3 linked regions of the Homo sapiens genome follow. The protein of the gene in region 2 purifies or fractionates together with the protein of the main gene of each other region. This does not show direct contact. Each region holds a gene or a part of one and is shown on either strand. Other genes may lie near its edges.

Region 1 (3,648 bases), on a different chromosome or scaffold from region 2:
CCCTGGGGCGCGAGCTCCGTGCTGACGAGGAAAACCAAGATCTTCCTGGGTTCGAGGCTCGGACCAGGCCCCGGCGCGTGTGGGTGGACGGCGTCCCGCACGGAGAACGCTCCGCCCGCCGGGCGCGCCGGCCGTATTTGGACATTGGTTCTATTTTTAACTTTCCCGGGACTCGAGTTCGGGGGTTGGGGGAGGAAAATCCCGCTTCCTCTGGGACCCGCAGGCCTCGGTGCCCGCCCAGCGCCCAGGCCCGCCGCGGAGTGTAGTCCCAGGCCCGGAAGTGAGTTCCGGGTCGGTGTAGACGCGGCGGCCGCGCGGGTTCCGGGCTCCACCCTGGTGCCAACGGCGTCCCTCCTGGAAAACCTGACTCAGGCGGAGCCCGCCCCCGCCCCCGGCCCGCGGACCCCCCGCCCCGACACCCCCACCTCCACCAACCCCACCTGGAGGGGACCCCAGCCCGGCCGCGCGGGAGGCGGGGGAGGCCGGGGAAGCCCCGCGCTTCAGGGGCCCGGGTGGGGGCGGTGCGGGGGGCGGGCCCTCCCTCGCTGACGCCGCCGCCACCGCCGCCGAGCCCGGGACCCGGAGCGCGGGCAGCGGAGCGGGCGCCAGGCCGGCCGGGCAGGATGCGCTACCGGGCGTCGGTGAGCCTGGGGGCGGCGGGGCAGGGCGGGGGGTCCCGGGCGTCCCTCCCCACCTCGCGGCGTCGCCTCGGCCTCGCCAGGAAGCGGGCGCGGCCCAGGAATTCCGGGTGGAAAAACGTCCCGGGAAGTTGCAGGGGGAGGAGGCCGAGGCGGGGAGGGCGGCGCGGGACGCTCGGACCCGGGGCCGGATGAGGAGCCGCCGGGGACGCCTGAGAACGCGGAGACCCCTGACCCGAGGGCGAGGGGGCGGGGACCGCGGCCGGATTTGGCAGCCGCTTCGGCGCGGGATTGGAGCGGGGCGGTGAGGACAAGCCTGGGAGGGGCAGGCCCCCGGCCAGAAATCTGGGCCTTTCGTGGTCAGAGGACACCGGCGGCCCCTTTGGGATCCACCCCCAATCACCACCACCTTGTTCTTCTCTGACCCTGGATACTCTGGGTGTCCATTTTTTGGAGCCCTGAGACCCTGTTTGAAGAGGGATCCATCTCAGCCCTGGTTGTGGGGCGAGGGTCTTGCTCAGCCTGCACCACCCTCCACCCTCCAGTAGGACCCAGAGGCAGCTGGGCTTTCCATGGTAAAGCCCCCATCCCCTGAGGCTTCTCAGGACTCTCAGTGGAGGAGGTGCCTGGGGAGCCCAGCAGCTGGAGGAAAGGGAGTGGCCCCAGCCATGCGAGGGAGGGCCTCCCCCGCGTTCTGGAGTGGGTGGCTGAGCCCAGCTGGGGTGGGAGGCCCTCTGGGGGAACCCCTCTGGTGTAGTCTGGGAGTAACCTCTTGCTTGGTGCTCGACGCTCTACCGGTGGAGGTGGGGGTGGGTCTGGGTGGGAGAGACGGCCCCACCCTGCCTGCAGAATTGACCCTGAGCCATTTGTCCTCCAAAGCACCTGTCACACGTGGCTCAGAGCTGAGGGACCTGAGGTCACCTGGTCTAACTCAACTCCTCCTCCTTTAGGAGGAAGGAACCAGAGAGAGGAGGGGATTGGTCCAAGCTCAACAGAGCAGTCTTTCTGCTATTTCAAGGAGTTCCTTCTTGTGACCCCCCCTTTCTCCACCCAAAACCAGCACCTCCCGGGTTCTGCCCTCTGGTCCTGCCTGCGTCCATGCCCTGTGTCCGAGTCCCAAGTGGTTCATGTTGTCTCTGTTCTGTGCCCGCAGCCTCGGTGATCCCTCTGCTGCCACACTGGGACCCGGGCCCTCCACACCCGGCTTTCCGCACCCGGCCCACCACACCCAGGCCCTCAGCACCCAGGCCCCCCGCACCCGTCATGCTCATGTCCCGTGTCTAGCCCGGAGTCCACAAGCCCCTACGTTCCCTCTCAGTCCCACAGGCGCAGGGAAGTGGCCTTGCCCCGCCCCCGATGACTCTGACCCTCTTCTGTGGCCCATTCTCTGCAGGCCCTGGGCAGTGACGGGGTTCGGGTGACCATGGAGAGTGCGCTCACCGCCCGTGACCGGGTGGGGGTGCAGGATTTCGTGCTGCTGGAGAACTTCACCAGCGAGGCCGCCTTCATCGAGAACCTGCGGCGGCGATTTCGGGAGAATCTCATCTACGTGAGGCCCTTGTGGGGAGATGGCAGGGGTGCTGGGGTCACAGACACAGGCAAGCGGAGGGGAAAGAGACACCAAGGGTCACCGGGATAAACTTTTTTTTTTTTTTTGAGACAGTTTCACTCTTGTTGCCCAGGCTGGAGTGCAGTGGCGCGATCTCAGCTCACTGTAACCTCCTCCCCCCGGGTTCAAGCGATTCTCCTGCCTCAGCCTCCCGAGTAGCTGGGATTACAGGCACCCGCCACCACGCCCGGCTAATTTTGTATTTTTAGTAGAGACGGATTTCTCCATGTTGGTCAGGTTGGTCTTGAACTCCCGACCTCAGGTGATCCGCCCACCTTGGCCTCCCAAAGTGCTGGGATTACAGGCATGAGCCATCGCACCTGGCCCGGGATAAACTTTGGACCCTCTTCCCCCGATCCCAGACCTACATTGGCCCCGTCCTGGTCTCTGTCAATCCCTACCGGGACCTGCAGATCTACAGCCGGCAGCATATGGAGCGTTACCGTGGCGTCAGCTTCTATGAAGTGCCCCCTCACCTGTGAGTGACCCCAGCCCCTCCGGGAGCGACCCCTCTGTCTCCATCTGAGGTGACCCCGCCCAACCCTTACCTTACTCTGAAATGATCCTGGCGTCCCGCGCCACATCTGTGAGGAATCCCACAGTCTCTTGCCCCCCAGTGACCAGAGATGAATGTCGCAACTCAGCTCCATGTGGGTGGGACTCAGTCCCTACCCCGACTCACACCCATGACTTATTCCCCAACTGGGAGTGGCCCCCCAATCTTAGTGACCTCTGAACCCCACCTGCAAAGACCCCCCCCAGCCCTACCCGTGAGTGACTCCAGCCTCCACCTAAGTGACCTCCAGCCTCCCACCTGTGAGAGCCTCTCAGTCCTCCCGCTGGCGGTGACGCCCATTCTCAGCTATGACGGATCTCCCATGGCCCACACCTGTGAGGGACCCCCAGTCCCCATCCTCAAGGGTGTATTCGACTCCCACAAGAGGACTCCACCCAGATGTGGGAGCGGGACTCTCGTGGGGCTCTGCTTGGCCCCCCTCCCCAAACTCCCTGACGAGCCTCCGCCCCAGGTTTGCCGTGGCGGACACTGTGTACCGAGCACTGCGCACGGAGCGTCGGGACCAGGCTGTGATGATCTCTGGGGAGAGCGGGGCAGGCAAGACCGAGGCCACCAAGAGGCTGCTGCAGTTCTATGCAGAGACCTGCCCAGCCCCCGAGCGCGGAGGTGCCGTGCGGGACCGGCTGCTACAGAGCAACCCGGTGCTGGAGGTGAGGGGCAGGGAGAGAAGCCCAGTGCCAGTGCGGGAGGGGAGGGGCAGGGAGAGAAGCCCAGTGTGGGAGGGGAGGGCAGGGAGAGAAGGCTAGTGTGGGAGGGGAGGGGAGGGGCAGGGAGAGAAGCCCAGTGCAGGAGGGGAGGGGAGGGCAGGGAGAGAAGCCCAGTGC
Region 2 (3,492 bases):
ACAGTCAGCACTGTTGAGGACCCCCGGATTAGTGGGAGATCAAACCCAGCTCCCCTCTAGAAGAAGGATTCGAGCCACAGACAGCTTGCCAGTAGCCAATTAGGGTAATTGGAAACTTCTGCCCCGGCGGGGGGTCCCCGCTGGAATCCTGTGTTCCTCGCCACTGGCTTCCAGCGCCTCTGTTTTCTCAAAGGGCTGATACTGTCACCACTGGGACCAAGTTAAACCTGGTCCTGGCCCCAGGGGCCTTGTGGCAAACAGGGCACAGAACGAGACTGGCAAATTAAAACCAAAATTCTAGATGGTGTCTTGCGCTCCACACGCAGGTCTTACTGGGGAAAAGGATGGGAGTGGGGGCTCCCCAGGACTCGATTTTAGCTAATGCGCTGTGTCACTGCCCCAGCTCGGACGTAGAAGCCCAGCCCTCCGTGAGCTCTTGGGAAAGGGGTGAATTCACTGGGTCATGGAAGGGACAGTCAGGTGACCAGCGGGGTCGCCAGATGAAGCTTCCCAGCCGGGAAACAAGACGGGGTTTCTTGGCAGGCCCTGGTCCTGGGGAGCAGGCCCTGTTGTTGGCTGGAGAGGAAGGTGTGGGGTGGAACAGGTGTCCACATAGCTCCATCTCTGGGGGCTGGAGCACACACTTTGATGAGCCCCCCCGGAAATGATGTCAGAGCCTAGCCGCTTCCTTATTTGCTCTTTTATTGAGGCCGGGCAGGCCCTGGGTCACTTTGGAGGCCCCTCTTGGTCCACACTGGACTGGCCGGGAGGTGATGGGCGGGGAAGGTTCTCGTGATTGATTGATTCTGAGTCTGAGAGTGGCGAGTGGGGAGAGGCTTCCCCAGTTCTCTCCAGCTTTCCCTGCAGCTGCAACCTGCCCTCTGGTCCCAGGTGTGGAGCCTTTGCCTGTCTCTAAAAAGAGCCTGTTGGCGACAAGGTGTAGGGGGCACAAGTTTACCTGAAACAGGTCAGTGGTCTCTCCCAAGAAGCGCACGCCACCTCTGGTCCCTGGCCCTGAACCCTGCCTTCTTCCTCCCTCCACGGTTTCTTCCCAGACTTTCTCAAGCTCCTCCTCACTGCCCTTCCTCCCCAGCCCAGCCTGGGAACACAGATGCCCCGCGGGTAGGAGGCCTCGAGGGAGGAGCCGGGCTGATGCGGGGCTGCTCAGGGCAGGCCCCAGGGCGAGCTTGCCATCGTGGCCAGGCAGCCTCCACCTGTGCTTCAGTGGCCCCTGCCCCCCTGAAGCATGTGGGGTTTGTCCGCTAGGAGGAGGCAAGGCCCCCGAAGAGAGGAGAGACCTGGGAGTGGGAGCTCAGGTCAGGGAGGAGGCAGGGGAGTGGGGTCTCCCAGACCCAACGGTGAGCTCAGAGCAAGCTTCACGCAGGACGCTCCGAAACACTGTGTGGAGGGGGCTGTGTTGTGGGCACCTTGGGGCCTGATTCTCCTTCCTCCGAACGGGCTCCTTGATGGCCTGGCCACAGGGGCAGCTCCCCATTGGCTGTTAGGACCAGAGTGTGAAGAAGAAGTGAAATATAAATATGTATACATATATAAATATATTTTTAATTACATGTCGTGTCACGGTGGCTCCAGACATACTGTTTGCCTAGTTTATTCCACTGCTTGAAAGCGCTTCCTAGCCAATCTGAACAACAACACTTTAAGCTGTTTTTCTAAATGCAGGTTGCTGCTCCTTTTTCAGATATGGAAGGAAAACGTTAAGACTATTTTTTTTTTAAAGAAACAACAGTCAAGCCTAAAATTTGAGACCCCGAGGCAGCTTCCCGAGGGAGACTGCTCAGACAGGAACTGCAGGACAGAAGTGGATGCCCCACAGACCCTGGCCCCCTCCCCAAGTCCATCCCCTCTCTGTGGCATGAGGAAGGCCGCGTCCGAGTTGACCTCTGAATGTATGTGATGAGAGGCAGAGCTGGATATTGCATTTCTAAGGCTTGCATTGCTTTCCCCTCGCCCGCGGTTCTTGGCGCATGGAAGAGGCGGTCCAGCCATCTGATGTTGATCCTGTCTCAGTCTCCCCACTGCCTGTCAGGATGAGTTAGTCATTGTTTTTCTCCGAGGCGGCCTGCTTGCCACAGCCCTGCTCCCCAAGGCCTGGTGGCTTTGCCGAAGCTCTGGGACCGCAGCCCCAGCGAGGCCCCCAACCTCACCCAGACGAGGCCAGGAGCCCCGCCACCCTCCACGGGATGTGCACCCTCAGACCCCATTCTCTCTGTTCGTCCTTCCTTGACCAGTCTGTAAACCTTCACTGTTTGGGGATCGTCCTGTCCATCCATGTAAATGTAAATGTTGGCCGAGTCGGTATTTATTCTGATTGATTTTTATTTTATTCTATTATTTTCTCCGAGGGATGAGGGTGGGGGGTGTGGGAAGGGTACCACAGATCAGGCCGGGGCAGCTGTAGGGGCGGGGGCCCAGACAGCCAGGCCGCCACCAGAGCAGCCCCATGGGGTGCCCCAGACGCGGGCCTCCAAGAAGCCAAGTCCCAGTCTGTTTTCTGGCATCAGACACCGGCCCGTGTTCCTTGTCAGACAGACAGACTCTCAGGCCTGCCTGGGGAGTCGTGTCCCTCAGCTGCAGGGCACTGTGTTGGGAAACCATTGGCTGGGCCTTTGAGGACACAGATCAGAAGAAAGAAAGACAACTTTCCTCTGCGCGGAACACTCACACGGAAGGGCTGGCCGCCTCCCTGAGCCGGCTGGGAGTGGACGACAGGACCTACCTCCCCAGAGCAAGGGCCTGGGGCTTCCCGCCAAAGCTGCCGCGGAACCCCGCTAGTGCGACCACCCTCCCTCCGTCGGTATGTCCTGCTTTCCAGCTGAACCCAAACTACAAGTGGGTTTAAAAAAATAAACACCACCACCAAAAACAAAATGCCCAGAGTCTGTGCTCTTTGTGTGTTCAGCAAAAGAAACCTTTTCCCCAAGCTCATGTGCCTCAGCTATACTAGCAGGGCCTCCAGGAGCTGGCCCAGGAGATGAGCTGAGGGGAAGATTCTTGCAAGAAGTTGGTCCAGGAGACCATGGGTGAAGGAGACTTACTTACATCCCCCAAAACTGGGAACTAACTATGACCTATCCAAAGTGACCTGGACCTGTCCAGGATCAAGCCAGTCCTGGACAAAATGGCTTTTGCACTAAAGGTTTGGTTTAACCAACCCCCCCCAAACCTACCCCTTCCCTGGAAATGTCACTGTGGCATTTGGCAATGAGTCATTTCAAGAGGGCTGAGATTTGGGCCCAGTGGCTTTCAAAAGTCAACAGCGAGTGGCTGTCCAGTCCCAGTTGGTCAAATGAGTCTTTCATCAACGAGTCCCCAAAGGGCCCAGTGATTTCTTTTCCTGTGATGACATGTCTCTTGTTTTGCACAATCTTGTCTATGGCAAGGCACTGGGGACACTGTTTCCTGGTAACGCTCCCCTTTCCTTGGGGATTCTTTCTGGCTAGAACTTGCTGGTCCTTCAGCTCCTTGCAG
Region 3 (3,648 bases), on a different chromosome or scaffold from region 2:
GTGGAGACTCCTTCCAAGCCTGCTAAGGAGGGGATTCATTTTGGATCAGTGGCAAAGAAAGCCAAGAAACAGGTGGAGTGTGAGAGAGAGACAGTTCATATTCACTGAAAGCTTGAATCTCTGAATGTCTTGCCATAACAGAATTTCTATGCTTTCAAACACTATTATTGGTGCCACCTTCATCAAGGAACGAAATCAGCCCCTGGTAGCTTGCACTTAGTTCTCATGGAAATCAGAGAATCATTTGTATTTGTCAAACTAAAAATGAACTATTGGGAGGTATTATGAAGCACTGTTCAAATCAAAGGCCTTAAAATAGTAATAAATCACTTTGAGGGAATGTGATAAATGAGGTTGACTAGAATTCAGTTAATGAACTACCAGGGCCGTTGGCCAGGTCTCCACTAGCAGCTTCAAGGGATAATTTTTGATCTGGAAAGCCTACTTGGCATTAATCTGAACTGTTCAGGCTGGAATTTGCTGGTGGATAAGTGATCTTCATTTAGGCATGTTGACCTAGTGCTGGAGGTGTCTTGTGTGAAAAAGATAGGACTTTCTTATTAACATTAAGGTGTTATCTGTGCCAGTTCAGAAACAGGATTCAAAGGCCTTACTACATCCTTCTCTTCTTTCCAGCCTTGACTTCAAGGGTCACTAGGGGCCCACATTATGCATTTCAGCCAGGTTTTGGGGCCCAATTTTGACCTCCCTTTGGCTGTACTCTACTTAGGATAAATTCCCTGAGCCTCTTCAAGACAATCTTTGGAAGGTTCTTCAGCCACAGAGCCTTTCTTACCTGTCTGACCCATTCCACACACACTCAAATTTATCAAAAATGCAGTCATTTTCATAGAGGGAACACAGCTTGCTGCGGAGGTAGTCATGAACCTGGAGAGGAAACATATCGAGAAGGTCAGTTATTATTTTAAACAGTAATTATTTCTGCAAACACCTCCTCTTCTGATGTGAGCTGTTAAATCTTTCATTGTACATGCTCTTTGAATCAGATGGCCTTGGATCTGAACCTAGGCTTGGCCCTTTTAGCTGTAGGACATTAGGATGGGTTGATGAGCTTCTCATGTAGATGATATGGATTAATCAAGCTTGCTTGTATAGACAGTGGCATCCAGTAAGACTAAATAAGTGGTAGATTCTCATTTTCTAAGCTGATTTGCTCACAGGCATTAGAGATCACCATTCATGCAGTCTTTTATTCAACAAATATTTACTGAATACCTACTACGCACTTGAGATGCAGCAGTGAGCCAAATATCCTTGCAGTGCTTTTGACCCAGTGTCAGGTGACAGATTATATAACCAAGTAAATAAATAAGATGTTTAGATGGTGATAAAATCATAGAACAAAAGTGTATGGAAAAAGAGCCTGGGAGATCTTGTCGGGGGTGTATTATTTTATACAGGGCAAGTAGTCAGGGCTTCACTGGATGAGGTAGCACTGGAGCAGAAGCCTGCAGGAGATGAATGAGCCACAGTGATGTCTGGGTTTGGGGTGAGGGGAAGGCTCTCCAAGCATAGGAAACAGCAAACATAAAGGCCTAGAGGCAGGAATCCTGGAGGGAGTGTGGTGGGAGAGGAGTGAGTAAGCAGCTGGGGGAGAGGATGATCAGTTTACATAGGCCCTTTATTCTGAGGAAGAAGAGACCTCACAGAAAGGATTGCTGAATCTGCTGTGTTGCAATGGATCCTAAGGGTGCAAAGGCAAAGGGAGGGAGACCAGTTATAACCTGAGTGATAGATTCTGGCCTGGACCAGGGCATGAGCAGTGATGGGGACTGGTCAGATTCTCCTTTTGTTTAGGGAAAGAGCAGATAGGACTTGGGTCAACTCTGAGGTGTGGAGAGAAAAACAGGAGTCAAAGATGACTCCCTGATCTTTCTCCTGAGCAAGTGGAAGGAGTAGGTACCATGTTCACTTTTGGGTACAATGGTTTAGAGATGTCTACATGTGGAGCTGTCGAGTAGACTCTGAGGTGAAAGGTGCTGTCCTGGAGTATGTGGCGATTCTTTCCTGGTTTCTCTTTTCCAGTGAAAGCAGCCAGCATGGTTATCAACTAAGAGTGAGCAGGAGAGAGAAAGGGTTGAGAAACAGTGTCAGATTTCTGGAAGGCACCAGGGGACACTTGACGTTGTTGGACATGTATGTCAAATAAGGCTCATCAAGCATAGTTGAATATTTTTCTCCAGCTACATTCAGCAACTCAGCTGTAGATGCCAAATAGATGAATAAGGTTCAGAGAGTAGTAGCCTGGGTTCTCTGTTTTGAAGGTAATCCTTCCTGAACCCACTAGCACGGAGTGGCAATAATAACGGGCATACCCAATATGCTGGCTTGTCATTATTAGCCAGGTGCTTTATCTGTCAAAACCTCATTTCATCTCTAAAGCCATCTTATGATGTAGGTACTTTCATTCTCTTTACTTTAATGGAGCATGAAGCACAGAGATATGACATCATTTGTCCAAGATCACACAGAAAAAGTGACAGAAGGGGAGGGAACTGAGCCCCGGTATCAGGCTCTGGAGTGCACACTCTGAGCTGCACTAGCAACCTGCCTCCAGCTTGCTCTGGTGGGTCCTCAGTCCTTGACAGGAGCTGTGATAATGAACTCAAGTGAGGCTGAGAGAGAAGGAGATAGAACTGTGTGAAAGCAGAGGGAGGCTACCAAGGGCATTGGTGTTTAAGTTAAGAGTGATGATTCGATCTCTTTTTTCCTGCAACTGCGGCTCTTTCTCTTCCTTCGACTCCAACAGTTCTGCTGGATGCAGAGCTTCAGGCTCTTAGTCTTGGGCAAAGGAACGAGGTCAGGCTCATCCTATGTTCCATTAGATGTTCTGGGTATTTGAAAAGCTCTGAGTTATTTGGACAGAGGAAGTTATTTCTAACTCTGCAAATTAATTTTCCCCCACCTTTACTCTCTCACTTCCAAACAGTTCCAGGCCTTGTCAGGGTAACAGCTTCAGTGCTTTGGTGACAAGGGAATACCCCTACAGCAGTGCTCTTGGCATTGTTAGGTGCATTTGGGGGCTGCAAGGGTGAGGCTGTGTCCTGCCCTTACAGAGGCATCTCTGCTATAAACTAACTCATTCACCTTCACTAGGGGGCACAGCAGTAAAGGTATATAAACTGGGCAGTGGCAAGGTTTTTAAGGTCTAGTTCCATATGTCTGCTTTGTGATGAACCTTTCCTCATCTGTCACCATTCACCTTCGGCATTTTGTCTTATTACTCACCTGCAGTGTTTCTATAAGTGTCAAAACATGTGTGCTTTGGAAGTCACGCCCATTAGCAGGAATGACATTGCTGAGAACTCTGTAAATAATTCTTGAAAGATAGAAGTTGGGATAGATTCAAGGGAAAACCTAGTCTGAACCATTATTTCTCCACCATACCTAAGGTCTGGGTAGCTCCTATCTGCCTCCAATTGACAGCATTTAAAGAAAAAGAATGTCTACTATGAAGGTATGCTGTATTTATGTTTTGTTGCACAGAAAAAAAGTCTTCTTAGGCAAACCAGAGGGACCTTTTTCTACTAGAGGAAAGAATAAAGTGAGATGTATACATGAGCAACCTCTAGAGCTTGGAGCAAGAGAGAACTTAAAACTCATCCTATTTGATGTTCTTTCTTCATG

Evidence for each region.
Region 1: the proteins of CTIF (region 2) and MYO1C purify together in Homo sapiens (affinity purification with mass spectrometry, with the first as the bait; one study listed by BioGRID). This does not show direct contact.
Region 3: the proteins of CTIF (region 2) and PPP2R2B purify together in Homo sapiens (co-immunoprecipitation; one large-scale study listed by IntAct). This does not show direct contact.

The regions. Positions count from the first base shown.
Region 1 is NC_000017.11:1,482,687-1,486,334, reverse strand, and holds part of MYO1C (unconventional myosin-Ic), read left to right. Parts: intron 1-203; exon of another isoform or gene 204-280; intron 281-574; exon of another isoform or gene 575-623; coding exon of another isoform or gene 624-641; intron 642-760; exon of another isoform or gene 761-1,210; coding exon of another isoform or gene 1,211-1,213; intron 1,214-2,031; coding exon 2,032-2,187; intron 2,188-2,609; coding exon 2,610-2,725; intron 2,726-3,275; coding exon 3,276-3,474; intron 3,475-3,648.
Region 2 is NC_000018.10:48,860,326-48,863,817, forward strand, and holds the end of CTIF (CBP80/20-dependent translation initiation factor), read left to right. Parts: 3' UTR 1-2,892; downstream 2,893-3,492. UniProt on the Homo sapiens protein: Specifically required for the pioneer round of mRNA translation mediated by the cap-binding complex (CBC), that takes place during or right after mRNA export via the nuclear pore complex (NPC).
Region 3 is NC_000005.10:146,592,175-146,595,822, forward strand, and holds part of PPP2R2B (serine/threonine-protein phosphatase 2A 55 kDa regulatory subunit B beta isoform), read right to left. Parts: intron 889-3,648; coding exon 797-888; intron 1-796. UniProt on the Homo sapiens protein: The B regulatory subunit might modulate substrate selectivity and catalytic activity, and might also direct the localization of the catalytic enzyme to a particular subcellular compartment.